3 linked regions of the Homo sapiens genome follow. The protein of the gene in region 2 interacts with the protein of the main gene of each other region in a pairwise test. Each region holds a gene or a part of one and is shown on either strand. Other genes may lie near its edges.

What was found. The genes of interacting proteins can lie anywhere in the genome.
Region 1: the proteins of PNKP (region 2) and ZNF639 interact in binary tests that used the Homo sapiens proteins (3 or more experiments, as listed by UniProt).
Region 3: the proteins of PNKP (region 2) and CAMK2B interact in binary tests that used the Homo sapiens proteins (3 or more experiments, as listed by UniProt).

What each region holds. Positions count from the first base shown.
Region 1 is NC_000003.12:179,326,023-179,333,046, reverse strand, and holds part of ZNF639 (zinc finger protein 639), read right to left. Parts: intron 6,083-7,024; exon of another isoform or gene 5,703-6,082; intron 5,487-5,702; 5' UTR 5,416-5,486; intron 4,765-5,415; 5' UTR 4,754-4,764; coding exon 4,696-4,753; intron 3,430-4,695; coding exon 3,319-3,429; intron 59-3,318; coding exon 1-58. UniProt on the Homo sapiens protein: Binds DNA and may function as a transcriptional repressor.
Region 2 is NC_000019.10:49,864,577-49,872,005, reverse strand, and holds the start of PNKP (bifunctional polynucleotide phosphatase/kinase), read left to right. Parts: upstream 1-4,429; 5' UTR 4,430-4,537; intron 4,538-4,788; 5' UTR 4,789-4,801; coding exon 4,802-4,952; intron 4,953-5,560; coding exon 5,561-5,607; intron 5,608-6,579; coding exon 6,580-6,879; intron 6,880-7,429. Other genes in the region: AKT1S1 (proline-rich AKT1 substrate 1), read left to right, coding at 117-194, 290-459, 1,946-2,089. UniProt on the Homo sapiens protein: Plays a key role in the repair of DNA damage, functioning as part of both the non-homologous end-joining (NHEJ) and base excision repair (BER) pathways.
Region 3 is NC_000007.14:44,315,579-44,322,602, forward strand, and holds part of CAMK2B (calcium/calmodulin-dependent protein kinase type II subunit beta), read right to left. Parts: intron 6,978-7,024; exon of another isoform or gene 6,030-6,977; intron 5,810-6,029; exon of another isoform or gene 5,691-5,809; intron 1-5,690. UniProt on the Homo sapiens protein: Calcium/calmodulin-dependent protein kinase that functions autonomously after Ca(2+)/calmodulin-binding and autophosphorylation, and is involved in dendritic spine and synapse formation, neuronal plasticity and regulation of sarcoplasmic reticulum Ca(2+) transport in skeletal muscle.

The sequences.
Region 1 (7,024 bases), on a different chromosome or scaffold from region 2:
TTGATTCCATCTGCAAATTTTGGCAAGTCATTTGACGTCTCGGTATCAGAATCATCATCTGTAAAAAGGGATTTGGAAGAATACTTATTATTTATACAATCAAAGCATTAATTATAGAACAAAGCATCAATTTTTAAATATGATTTTGAATTCCAACAGGAACTAAGGACTTGGATTTAGTCATAAAAAGATAAGTTATCTATATACCTCAGACACAGAAAATCTGCTCAAACAAGCAAATGCTTTAGAATTGATGCCCCATTTGGACTAGATTACACTTTTTGAAGTTCCTTAGGATTTTAAGTTTAAATTACTGAGTTTGAATAAGCCTTTATACCCTCAGGCCAGCCCCAGTGTTTCAAAGTTAGCATGGGGAAACTGAAATACAGGTTAATAGTGAAAACTGGGCTTCAACATTTTGCGAGGGACCAAGTTTTGCTCAGTCTGCCAAGGCTGGAGTACACTGGCATGATCATGGCTCACTCACTGCAGCCTCAAACTCCTGGGCTCAAGTGATCCTTCAGCCTCAGCCTCCTGAGTAGATAGGACTACAGACATGCACCACCAAGCCCGGGTAATTCTTGTTTTTTGAGATGGGGTCTTGCTATGTTGTCCAGGCTGGCCTTGAACTCCTGGCCTCAAGCGATCCTCCCACCTTGGCCTCCCAAAGACCTGGGATTACAGGCGTGAGCCACCACACTCAGCCCATCCATCATGTTTTCTTAAAATAGACCTTATTTTTTAGAATAGTTTTAGAATTACAGAAAAATCTGAGAGGATAGTATGGAGAGGTCCCATGTATCCCAGTTTCTCCACTACTAACATCTAACATTAGTGTGGCACATTTGTTACAATTAATGACCAATACTGGTAACTTATTAATAAAAGTCAATAAAGTCATCTAAATGCCCTTAGTTTTTAACCTAATGTCCCTTTTCTGTTCCAGGATACCACATTCCATTAAGGTGCCATGTCTCTCTATGCTATTGTTGGCTGTGGCAGTTTCTCACTCCTTGAGGAGTACTAATCAGGTATTCTGTAGGATGCCTTGCTAATGGAATTTGTCTGCTTTCTTTTTTTTAAAATGATTACGCTGGAATTATGGATTACTGGGAGATAGACCAGAGGTAAATTGCCATTTTCATCACTTCTTATCAAGGGTACATACTATCAATATGATTTATGGTTGTTGATGTTGATCTTGATCACCTGGCTAAGTCTCTATCAGGTTTCAACACTATAAAGTTGTCTTTTTTTTTTTTTTTTTTTTTGAGATGGAGTTTCGCTCTTGTTGCCCAGGCTGCAGTGCAATGGCGCGATCTCGGCTCACCACAACCTCCGCCTCCCAGGTTCAAGCAATTCTCCTGCCTCAGCCTCCCGAGTAGCTGGGATTACAGGCACGCACCACCACGCCCAGCTAATTTTGTATTTTTAGTAGAGACAGGGTCTCTCCATGTTGAGGCTGGTCTCAAACTCCTGACCTCAGGTGATCTGCCTGCCTCAGCCTCCCAAAGTGCTGGGATTACAGGCGTGAGCCACCGCACCTGGCCTAAAGTTGTGCTTTTACTTTCCATACTTTACCTTTTGTAAGAAGTCACTATGTGCAGACCATGCTTAAGGAGTGCAGACTTATATTCCACCTCCTAGAGGGAGGAGTAGCTACATAAATAATTTGGAGTTTTACTGCTTCTTGGCCTTTTGGCTAAGATGAAGTCTAATAATTTGGAATTTTTCTGCACAGATTTGCCTCATCTCCTCTATTTAATAATTTATAACAGCATGAATTCATGGATATTTATTTTATACTCTGGGTTATAATTTTTTGTCCCCAAATAGTTTTCAGTTTTGGCTGTTGGGAGCTCTTTAAGTTGACGTGTGCCCCTTTGGCATACCCCTGTCAAGTGCGTGTGTTTAGGTTTTTTTAAGTACTTTCCTATTTTCCAGCACTACAAAATGCTCCAGGTTCATCTTGTATATTTCCTGCCCCAGACCTAGAATCAGCCATTTTCCCAAGGAGGCATTAGAAACCAAGAGCTGGGCACTGAATGTGCTCATGCTCACTGCTTCTGGGTGTCATTTCTTTTAGCCCCTCTCAGCTAACACAGCAAAGTGTGTGTGTACAGTACCACATATATATACACACACATATCTACAAGCATTCTGTATGTAGCCATCTGAATCTATAGTAAGCTAAACAGGAATTCATACCGATGTCTCTAACTCTCTAACTTAAGTGCAAGTTGTAAATTGTTATCATTCACCAATGCTGTAGAACAGAGGAACCAATAGAAGATCCAACATTGAAAAATACCAAATCACCCTCTGTTCTTTTCTTCCACACTATGTGGTATAGCTGAGTAGAACTGTGTCTAACACTATTCTTAACCTTTCAACATAAATACTCCAACTCTGAGTCACTCCTGCATTGCCACCAATTCCTAACCAACTAAAGTGGATTTAGGGCTGAGAGCCGTGGCTCACACCTGCAATCTCAGCACTCTGTGAGGCCAACATGGGAGGACTGCTTGAGGCCAGGAGTTCAAGACCAGCCTGGGCAACACAGCAAGACCCTGTCTTTACAAAAAAATTTTTAAAAATTAGCCAGGCATCGTGGTGCATGCCTGTAGTCCCAGCTACTCAAAAGGCTGAGTGGGAGGATTGCTTTAGCTCAAGAGGTCAAGAATGCAGTCAGCCATAATCCATGGAGTGAGACATGGCTGCATGGGTGACAGAATGAAGACTGTCTCCCCCTAACCCCACCCCCTTCAAAAAATGGACTTAGGAGAGTGCACTTTTTTATTTATATGTCAGAAATAATGTTAAAAGTTAAAATTACAGCCGGGCACGGTGGCTCAAGCCTGTAATCCCAGCACTTTTGGAGGCCAAGGTGGGCGGATCATGAGGTCAGGAATTTGAGACCAGCCTGACCAACATGGTGAAACCCTGTCTCTACTAAAAGTACAAAAATTAGTTGAGCGTGGTGGCGCACACCTGTAACCCCAGCTACTCAGGAAGCTAAGGCAGGAGAATTGCTTGAACCTGGGAGGCGGAGGTTGCAGTGAGCCAAGATCGCGCTGCTGCACTCCAGCCTGGGCGACAAAGCGAGACTCCATCTCAAAAAAAAAAAAAAAAAAAAAGAATAGTTAAAATTACTTGCTTTCTTAAAAAAATACAACTTTGTTTTCTTACATTGTAACAAATTTCAAAGACTTGTCTGTTTTGAAATCATCAATCCACATTTTACCCACATTTTCAAGTAAGGAATAAAAAATGTAAAAGCAGTTTAAAGAAACATATTTTCGAAAATATTAGATATACCTTTGTTGTCAAAATATTTTAAATCTGGCTGTCTCATAGAACAGACACTGTAACAATGATCAGAGAAAATTCCATTGAATCCATCTGCAATTCTGCTTATTCCAGAGGAATCTGAACATAAAATGAAAAATATTTCAAGTACAGTAAACATACATATTTAATGAGAAACTTCCCGTTATCTAACTTATACAAATGTTCTTAATGTTAATTATAGTATCTGTAATGAAAATATTATACATTTTCAACTTTTAAAGCTTTTATATTTCAGATCCAATATTGACATAGGACTTTGAAAGAACCACAAATTACATACTCTAAAACATAACAACTTTGAAATATACAAGGATACATTTGTTTTATACTCAGAATCACACAAAATAAAAATATATGATAAACACTGTATTAACTGCACAAAACAGTGAAATAAACACCAGGAAGGTGTGCCATGTCATGCAGAGAAAGGTTGTTACATAGGGGAAATGGTAAGGACCACTTAGGGCTTCTGAATATAGTCATTTCAAGTGTTGTCTAGGAAGGGCCAGTAAGCAGTATACTAGGGTTAATTTCTTCAGATATGAAGAATGTGTAGGCTGGGTAGACTAATAGGTAAGACTGAGATGGTCCCAAGTAAATGTATGCGAGGTGTATTAGAGATGGCCACAAAGACCCCTTTTCTTATACTGCCAACACAGCAGAGCCAACCTCAATGAAAGGATCTAAAATTACACAGTCATCCAGCCTGGGCAGCATGGTGAAACCCCATCTCTACTTTAACACTACAAAAAATTAGCCAGGTGTGGCGGTACACGCCTGTAATCCCAGCTACTTGGGAGGCTGAGGCAGGAGAATCACTTGAACCCAGAAAGCAGAGGTTGCAGTGAGCTGACATCACACCATGGCACTCCAGCCTGGGCTAGAGAGTGAGACTCTGTCTCAAAAAAAAAAAAAAAAAAATTACACATTCAGCATGAAAGTTTACATTTCCTAAAGTAATAAAGAGGATAAAGTCTTTTTTCCCCAATAATGTAAAATATTTTCTACCAAGGTTGTCATTATTGGGTCTTAAGCACAGCTTAGGTATCAGACATGCAAATCCCAATTATGTTATATAAGTAAATAACCTTGGCTATCTAATTTTAAATATTTATAACCCATAGAGCTGTGAGGAATAATATAATGTCTGTAAAGTTCTTATGTGTGCCTAGCACATGGTAGACAATAAGGAATATATATTCAGATAATGTATTTAAACCGTTGTTTTACCTAAATATTGACCCAGATATTTAAGTCTTATCTGATCACTTAGGAGAAAATGGATGAGAATATAATTTTGTGGGAATTAATCCATACCCAACTTTAAAATAATTATACACTGACCTGAATAACGAGAAGGGTGTAGAGTCTTCCTTTTTCTTTTTTTAGGATACTCATTCATATCTTTTCAATCTAAAAAACGAGAAAAAATTAACAAATATGTCACAAATAACAACTGTTAATGACGTTATAAAAATTCTAACTGAAGAATTTATTGGCAATATGAAATATGTGAGCCACCTGAAAATCTATGGTATAAGAAAAGTGTTAAATGATGCCTCTGTTTGTATTTCAGATTGTTTTCCAGTCAGGTTTCAAGGCAGAAACTGATTTCTGTTTTCTTTCTTACGGAGGTTAAAAAATTCTTTTTCAAATGTTGATATAAATTGTGAGAACTGGATAATTACAATAAACCACATGTTTAAGTCATTTTATTTTGTGTATATATAAAAAAAGAAACACTGTGCCTATGGCACCATACTAGGAGTTTTATAGGCACATTTCCTACCATTGGAAGTATTTTTAGGTAGTTTTCAAGCTAAAGGCGGAGACATTTCCTTTAAAAAAATATTGTCACAAATATGTATCGGCCTCCTGGCTTCCAGAAAAAAGTACTCATCACACAGATCAGAATATAAATAATTTTCAAGAAAAAAATCATTTTCCTATTTATGAGGTCACATTCAACGTTCCACTGAGAACACAACACATGCAGCAACCACTATCCAATTAAATTCTCATTAACTGTTACAAAATTAATTAGTTTCAATACAGTCCACTTACTTGGTATAATTCTTACTACTGGAGTGAGGAAAAATGAATTACAATAAGTTTCTGTAGACAGTAAAAAATGCCTGTAAGTAAAACATGAAAGAAGTTATTAAGCAAAAATACAGCTCATTTCTGGTACTGAATAATACAATGGCACCAGATCTTTAATCAATTGGAAAGTTATACAGAACTAATTAAGATATATTATTTTGAAAACAATGTACTACATACTAAAAACTGTATATCTTGATAAATATGTGATTATATGCAAATTTCCACATTTCTTTGAAATGATTTACCTTCTATAGTTCTTTTTTTTTGAGACAGTCTCATGCCTGACCTATAGTTAAATCTTTTGACACCAAAATAGGACTATGAATCTGAATTAATTTATTCATCCATAAGGAAAGCAAGCATAATGAAAGCAAACCAAATTATAAACTTTTTGTTTTTGAGACCGAGTTTTGCTCTTGTTACCCAGGCTGGAGTGCAATGGCGCGATCTCAGCTCACTGCAACCTCTGCCTCCTGGGTTAAAGCGATTCTCCTGCCTCAGCCTCCCAAGTAGCTGGGATTACAGGCATGTGGCACCACACCGGGCTAATTTTTCTATTTTTAGCAGAGACGGGGTTTCACCATGTTGGCCAGGCTGGTCTCAAACTCCTGACCTCAGGTGATCCACCCACCTGGGCCTCCCAAAGTGCTGGGATTACAGGCGTGAGTCACCTTGCCTGGCCCAAATTATAAACTTTAAACTGTTACAGCCCTTATAGATTATTTATTTAAGAAATAAAAGATCGAGACCAGCCTGGCCAATATGGTGAAATCCCGTCTCTGCTAAAAATACAAAAATCAGCCGGGTGTGATGGTGCGCACCTGCAATCCCAGTTACTCAAGAGGCTGAGGCAGGAGAATGGCTTGAACCTGGGAGGCGGAGGGCTACAGTGAGCTGACATCGTGCCACTGCACTCCAGCCTGGGCAACAGAGCAAGACTCTCTCTCAAAAACAAAAAATCAAAACAAAACAAAAAAAGAAAAAAGTAAAAGTGATAATAATAATTTACTGACCACCAATTATGTACCAGGCTGTGAACATACTTTATCTCATTTAATCCTATGTAATCGTATGAGATGCAAAATTCACATCACCCTCTCAAAATTATAGTTCCTGTTATTGAGGAAACTGAGGCACAGTAAAGTCAAAGCTAGATACTCAGTAAATGCTGGGGTTGGGATTTGAATAAAGGTTTACCCAACTTTATTTATTAATCTATTTATTTATTTGAAACGGAGTCTTGCTCTGTCACCCAGGCTGGAGTGCAGTGGCACGATCTTGGCTCATTGCAACCTCTGCCTCCCCAGCTCAAGCGATTCTCCTGCTTCAGCCTCCTGAGTGGCCGGGATTACGGGCGCCCGCCAGCAGGAGGCTGGGATTACAGGTACCCGCCAGCACACCCAGCTAATTTTTGTATTTTTAGTAGAGACGGGGGTTTACTATGTTAGCCAGGCTGGTCTTGAACTCCTGACCTCAAGTGATCCGCCCACCTCAGCCTCCCAAAGTGCTGGGATTACAGGCACGAGGCACCGCGCCCGGCCTATAATGCTCTTAACACCAAGGTGAT
Region 2 (7,429 bases):
GAAGCTTCAGGGAGGTGGAGGTGGTGGCTGTGGCAGTGGCCGTGGCTGAGGAGGAGGACACATGGAGCATGGCTAGGTGCTGCCTGGCCTGGGCCTCTAACTCAGGTCATCCACAGGGCTCTTTGTGATGGATGAGGACGCCACCCTCCAGGACCTTCCCCCCTTCTGTGAGTCAGACCCCGAGAGTACAGATGGTGAGTGTCCCAGGCTGTTCCCCTCCCGACCTGAGGGCAGGCACACGGCCGACACAAAGGCAGGGACAGAAGCTGAAGTCCACCCTCTCTTTCAGATGGCAGCCTGAGCGAGGAGACCCCCGCCGGCCCCCCCACCTGCTCAGTGCCCCCAGCCTCAGCCCTACCCACACAGCAGTACGCCAAGTCCCTGCCTGTGTCTGTGCCCGTCTGGGGCTTCAAGGAGAAGAGGACAGAGGCGCGGTCATCAGATGAGGAGAATGGGCCGGTGAGGGGCAAATGTGGGGAGGTAGGGAGGGCAGCTGGAAGGGCTCTGAGCCGCCTCCTCCAGGAAGCCCTCCAGCATGGATGCTGCTTTCCACCCATAAGCTAACTGAATCCTCCCCTCAACCTCAAGAGGCGAGTTCTTGGACACGAGCCTTGCAGTTTTAACAATTGCAGCCTTACCATGTGTCCTAGTGCCTTATAGAGAAGGCCTCTCCTTTCCAGGAGCGTCTCTATTTATAGAACACCTGCTCTGGGCAAGGCACAGGTGTTTTGGCATGCCCTCCAGTGGAGAAACTGAGGCTTGGAGGGTTCAGATCACCTCCCATCCCCACCCTGCACATTCCTAGCCCTTTGCAGAATTTGTCCCACCCCCTGGTCCCCTGTTCACCCCTTGTAGCAACCCCTGTTTGAAGCTCCTGGGCTGGGCTCTGCTGGCCTAGGTGGGTCCTCCTCACCCTTCACTGAGCCTCCCTGAAGCAGAGGGGAAACTGAGGCACTGAGGGGACATGTGACTTCCCTGAGAGGCAGAGCTGGGACTGGAACCCAGGTGTGTTTCAGGAAGGAGCTGTGGGCTTTGAGGGAGGAGGCCTGGGTCCCCACAGTCCCCCCCTCAAGCCTCAGTGTCCTTATATGCAAACCAGCAGTCACAGTGGTGACCTTTTCTGTGCATCCTCCCTCAATGAAGCAGTGAGCACTGAAGACCAGGAACAGGGCCTGGTGCGGGCGGGGTCCACCTGCTGCTGCTCTCTGTGCTTGCGACTCATGGCAACACAGTTAATTGAATGCTCTGGCCTCTTGCGTGCTGTGCCCGGGGGCTGGTCTCCCACTGGGCTCAGGTCCAGTTCCTGATCTGGGTCTCCGGGTCCCATCCTGCGAGGGGACAGGCCCAGCTCCGGGTGACGGGGGCTGTAGTGGAGGCAGTACTAGGTGCCAGAACTGCAGGCTCCTTGGCGGGGGCTGACACAGCGAGGGATCTTTTCTGTAGCGCAGTGGCCACATGATAAGGCAGTAACAGCTGATTATCTCAGCCCTCACAGAGACCCTGTTATCCGCCCCATTTTTCAGAAGGGGAGACTGAGGCCTAGGGAAGCAAAACCTCTTGCTCATAGTTTGTCAGCGGCAGAGGTCTGATTGGAACATGACTGAAACCCCAGCCCAGATCCTCAGACATGAGACGGTGCACTCAGCCTTAATGGCTAGCAGGCAACAGCACTTCCACTGTGTAGGAAGCAATGTCCTAGGCCAAGAAGGGGAGAGGGAGAGGGGCAGGTAGGCTTCGTGGAGGAGGTGTCTGAACCGGGTAGAAGGGTTCCTACGTGGAGCAAGACGGGGAGGGGCACTGCTGGCAGTGGGCATCGCAGGGCACAGGTGGCAGGGCAGGGACGTGCTAGAAGTGGGCTTGGAGCCCGGGTGCACCCCTGGACCGCGTGTGGGTGCAGGGGGATTGCCCTGCCGGCGCTGACCTCGCCCCGTCGCCGTCCCCGCAGCCCTCTTCGCCCGACCTGGACCGCATCGCGGCGAGCATGCGCGCGCTGGTGCTGCGAGAGGCCGAGGACACCCAGGTCTTCGGGGACCTGCCACGGCCGCGGCTTAACACCAGCGACTTCCAGAAGCTGAAGCGGAAATATTGAAGTCCAGGGAGGGAGCGCCCCGGGCCGCGTCCGCCCCGTCCCACACTACGCCCCCGCCCCACTCCCGGGGCCTGCTAATCTGAGGCCGATCCGGGACCGGCCTCCTTGCGTCTCCCATTCCCAAGATTGTCCCGCCTCTGCCAATCCCCGCCGTCCTTCCAGCCCACGACCTGCCGCGCCGAGGAGCGGCATCTGTCCCGTTTCCCGATTGGGTCTGTCGTCTCTCTCCGCCTAGCGACAGATTCCTTCTATTAAGGGATTGGCTCGCTGAGTTCTAAGCTCTAAATGGGTCAACTCCTTTGTTTTCCGCCTAGCGACAAGGGATTTGCTCGCACGGCATTGGCTCCATCCCCTAGTCGCTGGACAGCTCTTTTTTTGATTGGCTCAAATCCTGTAAAGGGCTTGACCAGTCTCTACATAGTCACCGTCCGCTTTTCCTGAGTTCTCCCTCCCAATTGGCTCCAGCTTCCTGGGGGCGTGGCCAAGCCCTCCTCTTCCCAGAATTGGCCCGGGGCCTTCAATTTACGTTCTTTACACTACGGGGACTGGGGTCGTCTTTGCCCACGTCCCGACAACTTGTTCCCTGACCCCCTCAGGGATGGCCCCAAACTGTCCCTGCCTCTGGCACCCCCTTTCATTGGTTCCATCCATCCCCACAACAGCCTGCCAATCGAAGCCCGTCCCTGCATCCAGGATGGTACCAGCTCCCGCCCCTCGCCCCCCACCTCCACAGGTGCCTTAAAGGGCCCTCGTCCACCCAAGGTGGGGGGCAGGGGCCCTCACTCTCCGGCCCTGGTGTGGGGGAGAGAGTGAGGGGTTGGGGGATCGGCAGTTGGGAGGGGCGCTCTGAGATTAAAGAGTTTTACCTCTGAGATAAATGTGAAGTGTGTTGTGAGTGTTCATTCAACATTTTCTGAAACCGAATGGCAGCGTCTGATTATCAGTGAATAGCTGGGGGTTGGAATTACTGTGCCCATTTTATTTACTTTTTTGAGACAGGGTCCCACTCTCGCCCAGGTTCAAGCGATTCTCCTGCCTCAACCTCCCGAGTAGCTGGGATTACGCGCCACTGCCGCCCGGGTAATTTTTGTATTTTCAGTAGAAACAGGGTTTCATCATGTTGGTCAGGATGGTCTTGAACTCCTGACCTCAAATGATCCACCCGCCTTGGCCTCCCAAAGTGCTGGGATTACAGGCGTGAGCCACGGCGCCTGGCTTTGTGCCCATTTTATAGATATGAAGACACAGGTTCATGGGGTGGAGGAGAGCATCCCAGTCTTATGTGACCATGGAACCCAATCTTGAGGAGGTGAGTGTTGGAGACAGAGCCCACATATTCACCAGCAAAGCCAGGAACTCCAGCCGGGAGTCTTCTATTATAAAAGGACTGGAGCAACTGGGCTTGGTGCCTCACGCCTATAAGCCCAACACGCTGGGAGGCCAAGGCGGGAGGATCACATGACACCAGGAGGTCGAGATCAGCCTGGGCAGCACAGTGAGACCCCTTCTCCAAAGGGAAAAAAAAATGGCTGGAGGTTAGAAAGCAGGTGGAACCTCGTCCGAAATTAGGACTAGGTAAACGTAGTCCCACCAGACCACTACCGAAAGAATGCTAACACTAAATAAGACTTAAACGGATCTGAGCACTTTGGGAGGCCGAGGTGGGCGGATCACGAGATCAGGAGATCGAGACCGTCCTGGCTAACACGGTGAAACCCCGTCTCTACTCAAAATACAAAAAATTAGCTGGGCGTGGTGGCGGGCGCCTGTAGTCCCAGCTACTCGGGAGGCTGAGACAGGAGAATGGCGTCAACCCGGGAGGCGGAGCTTGCAGGTGAGCCGAGATCGCGCCACTGCACTCCAGCCTGGGCGACAGAGTGAGACTCCGTCTCAAAAAAAAAAAAAAAAAAAGACTTAAACAGGGCTCACTACCACCCATTTTTTAAAGCTTTTGTCACGTGTTAGCTCCTTTAATCGTCATGGTAACCCCACGAAGCGGAAACGATTATCCTTTTTATAGATGAGGAAACTAGAACATCGAGGGTGAAGCCAAAGAAGGACTTAGGGGCGCTGTCGGGGGCGGAGGTTTCCTCGACTGACAATGACCATCAGATGGGAAAAAAATCTTCCTCCCTGGGATGAAAATTAGAAGTCAAGGTGGAAAGAGGCAAATCTGCTAACGGAGGATCCAGTCCCCGCTACCGGCCTGAGCCTCGCGTTGCAGCAAGAGAGATGAAGGTCAGGGCTGCCGAGAGACCCTGGGGGCCGGGAGTCGGGGAAGGGGCGTGGCTGCTGTGGGAGGAGGCCAGGCCCCGCCCCCCACCCACGAGGGGACGAGTCATTTCCGTCCGCCGAGGAACCGACCGCCGCCGGCCGGGTTGCAGGCGGGGCACCTCGGGCAGGACCTCCCTGGTCGGAAGTGGCCGTGAGCCCAAGCCGCGGTCCCGGGTGAGTACGGGGCGGGGCGGAGGCATGTGCGAGGCTCTCTGCCTGTACGCTGGAAAGTGGGGATTGCAACTCGGGGAGGGATGGAGCACGCGTCGTCGCCTGGGAAACGGGTCGACCCGCGGAAGGCGAGCGGGTGGGACTTCCGGAGCAGTTAATGGTGGGGAAACTTTCTAGTGGATGTGGGAGGAGGCGGGACTTCCTGCAGCAAATTGGGGCTGTGCGCCGCTCAAGCCCGTTTACCTGCTCCCCAGGCCGGCACCCAGGATGGGCGAGGTGGAGGCCCCGGGCCGCTTGTGGCTCGAGAGCCCCCCTGGGGGAGCGCCCCCCATCTTCCTGCCCTCGGACGGGCAAGCCCTGGTCCTGGGCAGGGGACCCCTGACCCAGGTTACGGACCGGAAGTGCTCCAGAACTCAAGGTGAGCGGGGCCTGAGCTGGAGGGGGTGTGGCCTGCTGCAAAAGCGGGAACAATCCAGAGGGACGCTTGGCTGCTACGCGGGATTGCAGTGGTGCAGCCAGCCCCGAAGTCGGAAGGTGCTCTCTAGGGAGTACAGGAAGATAAAGTTTGTGCTTGATTTAGAATTAGCTAGATCCTTTGGGGGAGAGGGGATCGAGCCGATTTAGGGAGGATGTTCACTGCGCGGATGATGCTCAGGCCATCGGGAAATCCAGAAACAGGCGACGACCTTCGTCAAGAGAAAAATGATCCTGTGGAGAAAAGTAAATGTCGCTAGGTTGGGATGGATGGTAACAGGCCAAGCCCCGGACCTATATCTAGCCACATTTTTTGTCAAGGAGGAAACCAATTCTGTAGAGAAAAGTACCTCCCTGTCCCTTGCAAGGACCAGTGTCAGGCAATCCTAGTGCCACTATCTGGCTACTGCATGTCAAGGAGCCAATCCCATGTAGAAATAAACTGCCTCTTACTCCCTGGATGCTATAGCCTGAAGCAGGCCACACTCCCCAGAAATGAGGGACCCAATCACACAAGGATGCAAATCCTGACTCCACCCCTCCAATCCTCAGTGGAGCTGGTCGCAGATCCTGAGACCCGGACAGTGGCAGTGAAACAGGTATCAGTGCCTCTGCAAGGGCCAGCAAGGCCTGGGGATGGGATTTGGGGAGGAATTGCAAGCCGTCAGTGAAGGGGTACATTAGGAAAATCTGATTGGGGCCGGGCGTGGTGGCTCAAGCCTGTAATCCCAGCACTTTGGGAGGCCGAGGCGGGCGGATCGCTTGAACCCAGGAGTTCGAGACCAGCCTGAGCGACATGGTGAAACCTGTCTCTCTAAAAAATTAGCGGGAATGGTGGCGCGTCCTTGTAGTTCCTAATCGGGAGGCTGAAGCGGGAGGATCCCTTGAGCCCAGTAGGTCAAGGGTGTAGTGAGCAGTGATCACCACACTGTACTTCAGCCTGGGTGACAGAGCGAGAACCTGTCTCAAAAAAAGAAAAGAAAAAATATGGCTGGGAGAGAAGGGGATGTGTCCAGTAAAGAAAGAAGTGTTGCCTGTTTCAGTGGGGTGGGTACCTGTCCAAGACCTTAGAAATTGGACAAGGCGGCCAGGCGCGGTGGCTCACGCCTGTAATCCCAGCACTTTGGGAGGCTAGGCGGGCGGATCACCCGAGATCAGGAGTTTGTGACCAGCCTGGCCAACATGGCGAAACCCCATCTCTACTAAAAATACAAAAATTAGCGGGGCATGGTGGCGGGTGCCTGTAATCCCAGCTACTCGGGTAGCTGAGGCAGGAGAATCGTTTGAACCCAGGAGGCACAGGTTTCAATGAGCCAAGATTGCACCACTGCACTCCAGCCTGGGCGACAAAACAAGCCTATATCTCCAGGGGAAAAAAAAAAAAAAAAAAAAAAAAGATTCGGACAAGGCTGAAAACCTGTAACCGTTCCAAAGCCCGTTCCAAAGTGAAGAGGTGGGGCCTAAGGGTCTGATAGTGGTGGAGAAGGGCTGATTTTTCCGCTGGGTATTTGATTGGAGGAAGCTCCCGGTGGGGGCGGAGCCAGTCCCAGCTCCTCCCTCTCTTTCTGCAGCTGGGAGTTAACCCCTCAACTACCGGGACCCAGGAGTTGAAGCCGGGGTTGGAGGGCTCTCTGGGGGTGGGGGACACACTGTATTTGGTCAATGGCCTCCACCCACTGACCCTGCGCTGGGAAGAGACCCGCACACCAGAATCCCAGCCAGATACTCCGCCTGGCACCCCTCTGGTGTCCCAAGATGAGAAGAGAGATGCTGAGCTGCCGAAGAAGCGTATGCGGAAGTCAAACCCCGGCTGGGAGAACTTGGAGAAGTTGCTAGTGTTCACCGCAGCTGGGGTGAAACCCCAGGGCAAGGTGAGGGCCACGCCGAGGGCTGAGGGAGCCGCCACAGACTGGGACCCAATCCCACGTTTGTTGCGTGCTCTCAACTTTTTAGCCTCTACTTACTTTTCTGAGAAATGGGCCTAATGATAAATGCAGGGATCGTTGTAAGCAGTTAAGCAGTGGGGAGAATGATATATGTCAGCTCCTGCGTTACCCACAGTGACCACCCAGTAATCAGCAATGACCATGACTGTCTCAGTAGGAGCTATTACGATGAGGATTTTTTATGTCCAGAGAGACTTGAGTTCAAATGCTGTTACCACCACATTCTGAGTCCCATGTGTCTCATCTCTACGATGCTGAATCCATAAAAAAAGCACGTGGCATAGTTCCTGACATGCAGTTAGCACCCAAAGCTTTGCTCCTGCTTTTATTTTCACGGTTATTAGCCCACCGAGGTGGTGAAGGCCAGGGGAAGAAGGAGGCTGGGTAAGACATTAACCCCCATTTTAAAGACTGTAATCCTGGGGCTGGCGTCATAAGGAGTAACAGGAGACAGTAAGGTTAAGATGTCGGGCCC
Region 3 (7,024 bases), on a different chromosome or scaffold from region 2:
ATTTTAGGGCCAGGTTGTCAATTTTTGCAAAAAACGCAGCTGGAATTTTCATAGCAAAAATGTAGGTCAATTTGGAGTATACTACTATTTAACAATATTAAATATTCCAATCCATGAACATGGGATGTCTTTCCATTAATTTAGGTCTTCTTTAATTTCTCTCAACAGTGGTTTGTGGTTTTCAATGTACAAGTCTTGTACTTCTTTTATTAAATTTAGTATTAAGTGTTTTATTTTTTAGATGCTATTGTAAATTGTTTTTCCTAATTTTGTTATTTTGAACTTCTAGTCCATTGAAATACAATGGATTTTTGTATATTGGTCTTACATCTTGCAACTTTGCTAAATTCATTTTTTAGTTCTAATAGTTTTTTAAATGGATTCCTTAGGATTTTCTATATACGAAAGCATGTAATCTGAAAAGAGAGGTAGCTATAACTATTTATTTCCAATCTGGGAGCCTTCTATCTCTTTTTCTTGCCTAATTGCCCTGGCTAGAATCTCCTATACCGTGCTGCCTAGAAATGGAAAGAGCAGATACATTCAGTTTTCCACCATTAAATATGAGGTTAGCTGCAGATTTTTCACAAATGTATTTTATCAAGTTAAGGAAGTTCCTTTCTACTTGTCATTTGTTGAGTTTTTATCATGAAATGGTATTGGTTTTTTTTTAAATGCTTTTTCTGCATCTATTGAAATGGTTCATATAGTTTCAATGTTTGTTCTATCAACGTGGTGTATTATATAGATTGATTTTTGTATGCTGAATGAACCTTTCATTCTTGGGATACATCCTACTTGTTCATAATGTATAAATAATCCTTTTTATATGTTGCTAGATTTATTTTGCTAGTGTTTTGTTGAGGATGCTTCATCTGCATTCATAAGTGATAACAGTCTGTAGTTTTGTGATATCTTTGGTTTTGGTATTAGGGTATTGCTGGCTTCACAGAATGAATTGGAAAGAATTTCCTCCTCTTCTACTTTTTGGGGGAGCTTGTAAAAGACTGGTATTAATTCTTCTTTAAATGTTTGGTAGGATTTACCAGTGAAATTATCTGAGCCTAAGCTTTCCTTTGTGGGAAAATTTTAAATTACTAAGTCAGTCTCTACTTGTTATAGGTCTATTCAGATTTTCTATTTCTTCTTGAGCCAGATTCAGTAGTTTGTGTCTTTCTAAGTATTTGTCCATTTCATCCAGGTTATCTAACTTGAGGGCACATAATTATTCATAGTTATTTCCTTATAATTTTTTTTCTGTAAGGTTGGCAGTAAGGTCCCCTGTGTCATTCCTGATTTTAGCAATTGGAGTCTTCTTTTTTCTTGGCTTTACCATCCTTTTTATAATAATAACCTTCCTCCTAACTAGCACTCCTGAGTCTTCTTAATTATTCTCAGAGGTATTAATCACCTTCTACCCTATCATATAATTTTTTTAGTATTTATGTTTATTGCCTGCCTCTATCCAGCAGTATATAAGCTCCCTAAGGGCAGGCATCCTTGACTGCTTTGTTCACTACTGTTTCCCAAGCACCTATGGCACATGGTAAGTACAGGCAACCAGACTTGCTGAATAAATGAATAAGTCTTCAGGAGAGCAAAAGAAATCTGGAACAGACTAAGACAGCTATGACTGTAACTATTATCCTTAAAAGAAACCAGGAAAAATGAAAAAAAAAAAAAAAAGCATGGTGATTTTGAAGCTCTGGCCCTGTGTTGTCCAATACTGTGGTCACTGTCACCATGTAGTCATAAGAACCTGGTCCAAACTGAGATGTGCCGTAAGGGTAAAATACACACCAGATTTCAAGACGTAGTACAAAAAGGAATGCAAAATAGCTTAATAATTTCTGTTTTGATTACATGTTGAAATGATTTTTTAATTTTTGTACAGATGGGGTTTTGCCATGTTGCCCACGGTCTCTAACTCCTGGGCTCAAGTGATCCACCCACCTTGGCCTCCCAAAGTGCTGGGATTACAGGCACGAGCCACCGCACCAGGCCTCTGAATGATATTTTGGATATAAAGTTAAATAAATATATTTTTAAAGTTCCTTTCACCTGTTTCTTTTTTTTCTTTACGTACTAGAAAATTTTTAATCACACATATGGCTCAACTTTGTATCACATTTTATCTCTTCTGGACAATGCAGCTCTCGACAACTTGGATGGGGTGGGCGGTGGGGTAGTAATGTCATTGTGAATGTAGAGAAAATGAAGGTAAACTTCAAATTCATGCCTAGGTGGGCTCTGAAAGAACCAAGGGTTATATGAAGGAGTGTGGGCTTAGGCGAGTGTCTGGCCTCAGGTGCAGACTCCTCTGCAGAGTCTAGGTATGCAGTGCCCATTGGAATCACCTGGGAGCTTTTAAAAACTGCTGATACCCCATTTCCCTAGTGTCTGGCTAAATGCGATGGGGCCTGAACACTCCTCAGGGGCTTCCCATGTGTGGTTGGGGTTGAGAACCACCACATGGTCATCTTCTTTGGGAGGGCCTGCTCCTAACCAGACTCCTACCCTTTGCCCAGAAAGCCCCTAACTAATGGCCTGGATCAAACTCACAGACGCTGAGAATCAGGCAGCACCTCAACAAACAAGAAGTCATGTGAACAACCTCATTAAGAAATTAGCTGAAAGCTGCAAGCCTCTTGGAGTCAAGCTCCATGACAGACATATAAGTGCTGACAGCCCTGCTACTGCATTTCACCGGGTGACAAGACTGTCTACCCAGACTGGACATCAGAATACCCGCAAGACCTACCTGCAGAGCCACCCAATACCTCTTATAAGGCCCTCATCTTTTACAGGGTGGGTGTGCCACTGCTCTGGGAAGCAGTCCCAGGTGCAAGGCCTGAGTGACCCAGACCATTGCTGAGTCACTGTGGAGCACCTACTGTGTGCCAGGCACTGTTCTCAGCACTTGAATTCAGGGTGTGTTGGGTGACAGAATCAAGGCTCCTCAGCTCCTTGCTGGAAACGGCACTCACTGGGATGTGCTTGACACCCAGAGGGCATTACAGCAAAAGGCATAACACCTGCAGTACTTCATTGTAAGGGCGACAGCAGCTCCTGCCCTCCAGGCTTCTCTTGCTGCTCACAAAGTGAGGAAACAAGGACTGTGGGTCCCAAATTCCACCCTGTACAAGTGTGCCATTATGCTTCCTCCCATAAAATCTTCTTAAATCTTTGCCTGGTTGTTGCCAATCTGTTCTAGAATTCAACAAAAGCTTCTGTCTGGCTTAACAAAGAATCATAACTTAAGTTATTTTTGGATAATTATGTCAATACAAAAAGAACTATGTCCACCAGGAACTGAGCCCTCAACAAGTGACCCTCTAACCCAGGAGACAAAAGCCACCCAAAAGTTTGGCAGCTAGCAACACCACCTTTCTCTAACATAAAAGGATGTTTTCATTTTAAATAAATTCAAGTTTTTCTATGAATAAAATATACATATCTGTGTAATATGCCAATATGATAATTTTTTAAAAACCAAGTTGATACATAATGCATTTTTATGTTTCTACACTAACAAAGTGACTTGCAGCTGTAAAAGATGCTTTAAAAATAATCAAATCAGATTCAATTTTTGTGGGGGAAGAGAGAGAGAATTAAATTTTTTGAAAATATATTTAAAATCTCCAGAAAGGCCACATCTCTTGCCTGGATGAGGGAGGTGGCATCACGGAACACAGGGAAATGGGAGTGGTCTTCCCAGGGACAGACATTGCACACTTATCTCCACCTGGTCTCTTCTAGTAAATTACTGTTAAATTCTAGGGTGGCTCAATATAGACTCTTTAAAGGCCAATGGAGCAAAAATGAGGGAAACATCCCTGTTAGAATTTTTAAGTAGAAGATACAAAACCTAAACATTGCATATCTCTCCCCTCTGCTCTTCGGGATTCCTAGAAAAGGGGGATGGAAAGATGGGAATAGGTCCTTCAGTTCTTTCAAGTGAGACCTGAGACATCCTTAGTCCTGTGGCCTTTGACCGCGGCAGGAGTCCACTTGCACCCACCTCCACAGGCCCAGCCCCTGCAGCTGGTCGTGCTGAGAACACAGCTTTCCTTCACAACAGTTGGGCCCTCCTAATGACCTTTCAGGCCCTGATTTCAAATATAGCATCCTATTATATATCCCATCACACTTGCTAGAGGATGGGTCCCAATTTTTGGTTTAAAAAATGTGGCCAACGCGTATGCACACATTTCTCTGCTAAGAATTGGAAGGCACTTAGCTGAAGAAAAGACTTACTGACACGGGGGGTCGTCATGAAAGTGTTGGGCAAACAGATTGCAGAATCACATATATGGTGATTCCATCTGTGTTTTGAAATCATCTATATCTGCTATATATGTAGATGTGTATATATGTACACACACACATATCCTCATACTGACATTAAAATTAAGAGGCCAGGTACCTCTGGAGAGTGAGGGAACTTGAGTGTAAAGGAGTCACATTTTACGGCACGTACTTCTGTATTACTTGGTGTGTGTGTGTATGTGTCTGTGTGTGTTTTACAAGATCATATTGCCCTGGTAATTTAATTAATAAAATAAAAATTTCTAGTCTTGCTGGTGTCATATGGAGTCAGAGTGTTGGTTGTCTTTGATGACGAAACGAAGTAACATCTTCACAAAGGGGAACCTAGAGGTAGGGGGCCCTTGGTTTGGAAAAGCACAAATACATCATGGTGAGCAGCCGGCCAAGGACAGGTGCCCAAAAGCCTCAGGTCAGAGTAGACCACAAGCTGGCCATGAGTCAGCCAGTGGAGTCACAGCATTTTTAAAGCACAGAATAGAGTAGGGTAATGAGCTTCTGAGAGGAGCAGAATGTGGATTCAAATCCTGACCCTGTGTGACCTTTCCTGGGGAATGGGGCTTCTCTGTGCCTCAGCTACCTCTCCTGTAAACTTGGGATGATTACAGTACCTACTTCACAGATCTAGCGCGTTAATATAATAAGCACCATTTAAGCGCTAGCAACTGTTACCAGAAAAGAAAAGTCCTGGTAGCAAGCATGCAGATATATTCTTAGCTCTCAGCAAAGTAGGTTATGGTATAAAAATACCATTAAATAGTAACTAAACTAGCATCACCTTAATGCACATCTTGCCAGCAATCTCAGCATGTGCGACTTCTTTTTAAACTACCCTACATTAAGGAATCAAGACCAGGAGGACTCTTGCTGGCCTCCTGGGAGCCAGGCCGGAAGGCAGAGGCCCACCCAACTCACCCCTTCCCCACCTCGGGCCAGGCACTGGGGACACAACCATGGCAGGGAGCCGGACCTCCGCCTCTCTGTGGGTAAGCTGTCCAGCACATCAGATGGGGCAAAGTGCCAGGGAGAAGACAAGCTAGGGGGAGGGGCAGGGAGCAGTGGGGAGGCAAAAGGAGAGCCAGGGCAGGGGGCATCTGGGAGAGCCTGCTGAGCAGCCCAAGGGAGTGAGCTGTGAGGGGTCAGGGGAAGAGAGGCAGCTTGGCCAAGGCCCCCGAGGCAGGGAGTGCCTGGTGTGCTCTGGGGAGAGAGAAAGCAAATACGATGATCCCTCCTCCTCCATTCCTCTCTTCCCTGGCAACCGGCTCAGAGCTTGGAGACTCAAAAATTGATTCGCTCTGAATTTCCTAAGTTTATCTATTAACTACCTAACAGGCCATTCGCTTGTTCACAGTGTGCCTCTCGGCAGAAGGCATCCGCCAGCTGACAGTGATGCCCCCGCGAGCGGTCAGGCCACACACACCCCAGGATATAGTCGCTTGCTGGCGACTGGGGTACCACTGGATGGAGTCAAGGACATATCAAGGTCAGTTTTGGGCCTATCTCAGGTTTAGTGGGAGAGATGGGAGGGGTGGGAGATGCCCTAGACTGGAGCTCAGGGGCCATTCTTGCTGCCTGGGCTTGGGCAAGTTGCCAATCTTTCCTGAACTTCGGTTCTTTGTCTGTAAAATGGGGCTGGGGAGAAGGGCCTTTCTGGACAATTGGAATCAAATAAAACCAAACATTTAAAGTAATGTACACATTAGGTGTTGTTACAACATGGCCCAGCCCTAGCTGCCATCTCCGCCAAAAAAGGAGGGGCCCATGAACCCCTGAAATGAAATCCAAAACCTCGTGGGAGATGCTTTCTTCTAGGGAGATCTCCATGTTTGAAAAGAGACAACTCCCCAAAAATGGAAGATTCACGAGGCTGAATACAAAATGTGAGACCTCTTCCTACCCAACAAACGGTCGACACTGACAACCCATCAACACTGACAACCTGCCAACCTGAGGAATGGCAGCACCCAGGGAAAGGGGCGGCCCCAACGCTGCTGTGTGAGTGGACACTGCAGGGAGAGTGGCGGCACCTGCAAAGACAGAAGACTCGAGGACCCTCCTCGGCAGCCCCACTGCCAGGGACACACCCTAAAGAAACTCTCACACCTGCGCCCCAGACGCATTCAGGGCCCGGGCCGTGACGGTGCTGGCCACAGTGTGCTGAGTGACAATGGAACACAGGAGACAACCTAGATTTCCATTGGGATGGGGGCACGCAGGACAGTGTTCACACTACAGGTCGCCACGCAGCAGCCTGCGATCAAACACATCGACGAGCACAGGTGTCAACAAGACTGTTGAGTGAAAAGTACAAGTTCCAGGTTTTTTATGTAAAGTTAAGAAAAACACCCACACAAAACAATCCTATATATTAGTTATGGATACTTATATCCATGTGTAAATGTACCCGAAAGAGCCTGGGAGGAAAAATACAAAAGCAGTAGTTGGAAGGAAATGGGTTACTTAATATTTCTTTGTAATACTTCTTATAATTTTTTTAAAAAAGGACTTAAAGCCAAAATGACAAAAGAGTAACCATTTTCAATTCTGTGTAGAAGAGATACTGTGTTCATTTTATTATTTCTGGGATTTTTCTGGATTTTTAAAGTTTATCCAATATAAAAAAAATAAAAACTGCACTGTTGGCTGGGCCATGCCGGGCTGAGGGCTTCCTTGCCTTGCTCTGTACCTGCTCCCACAT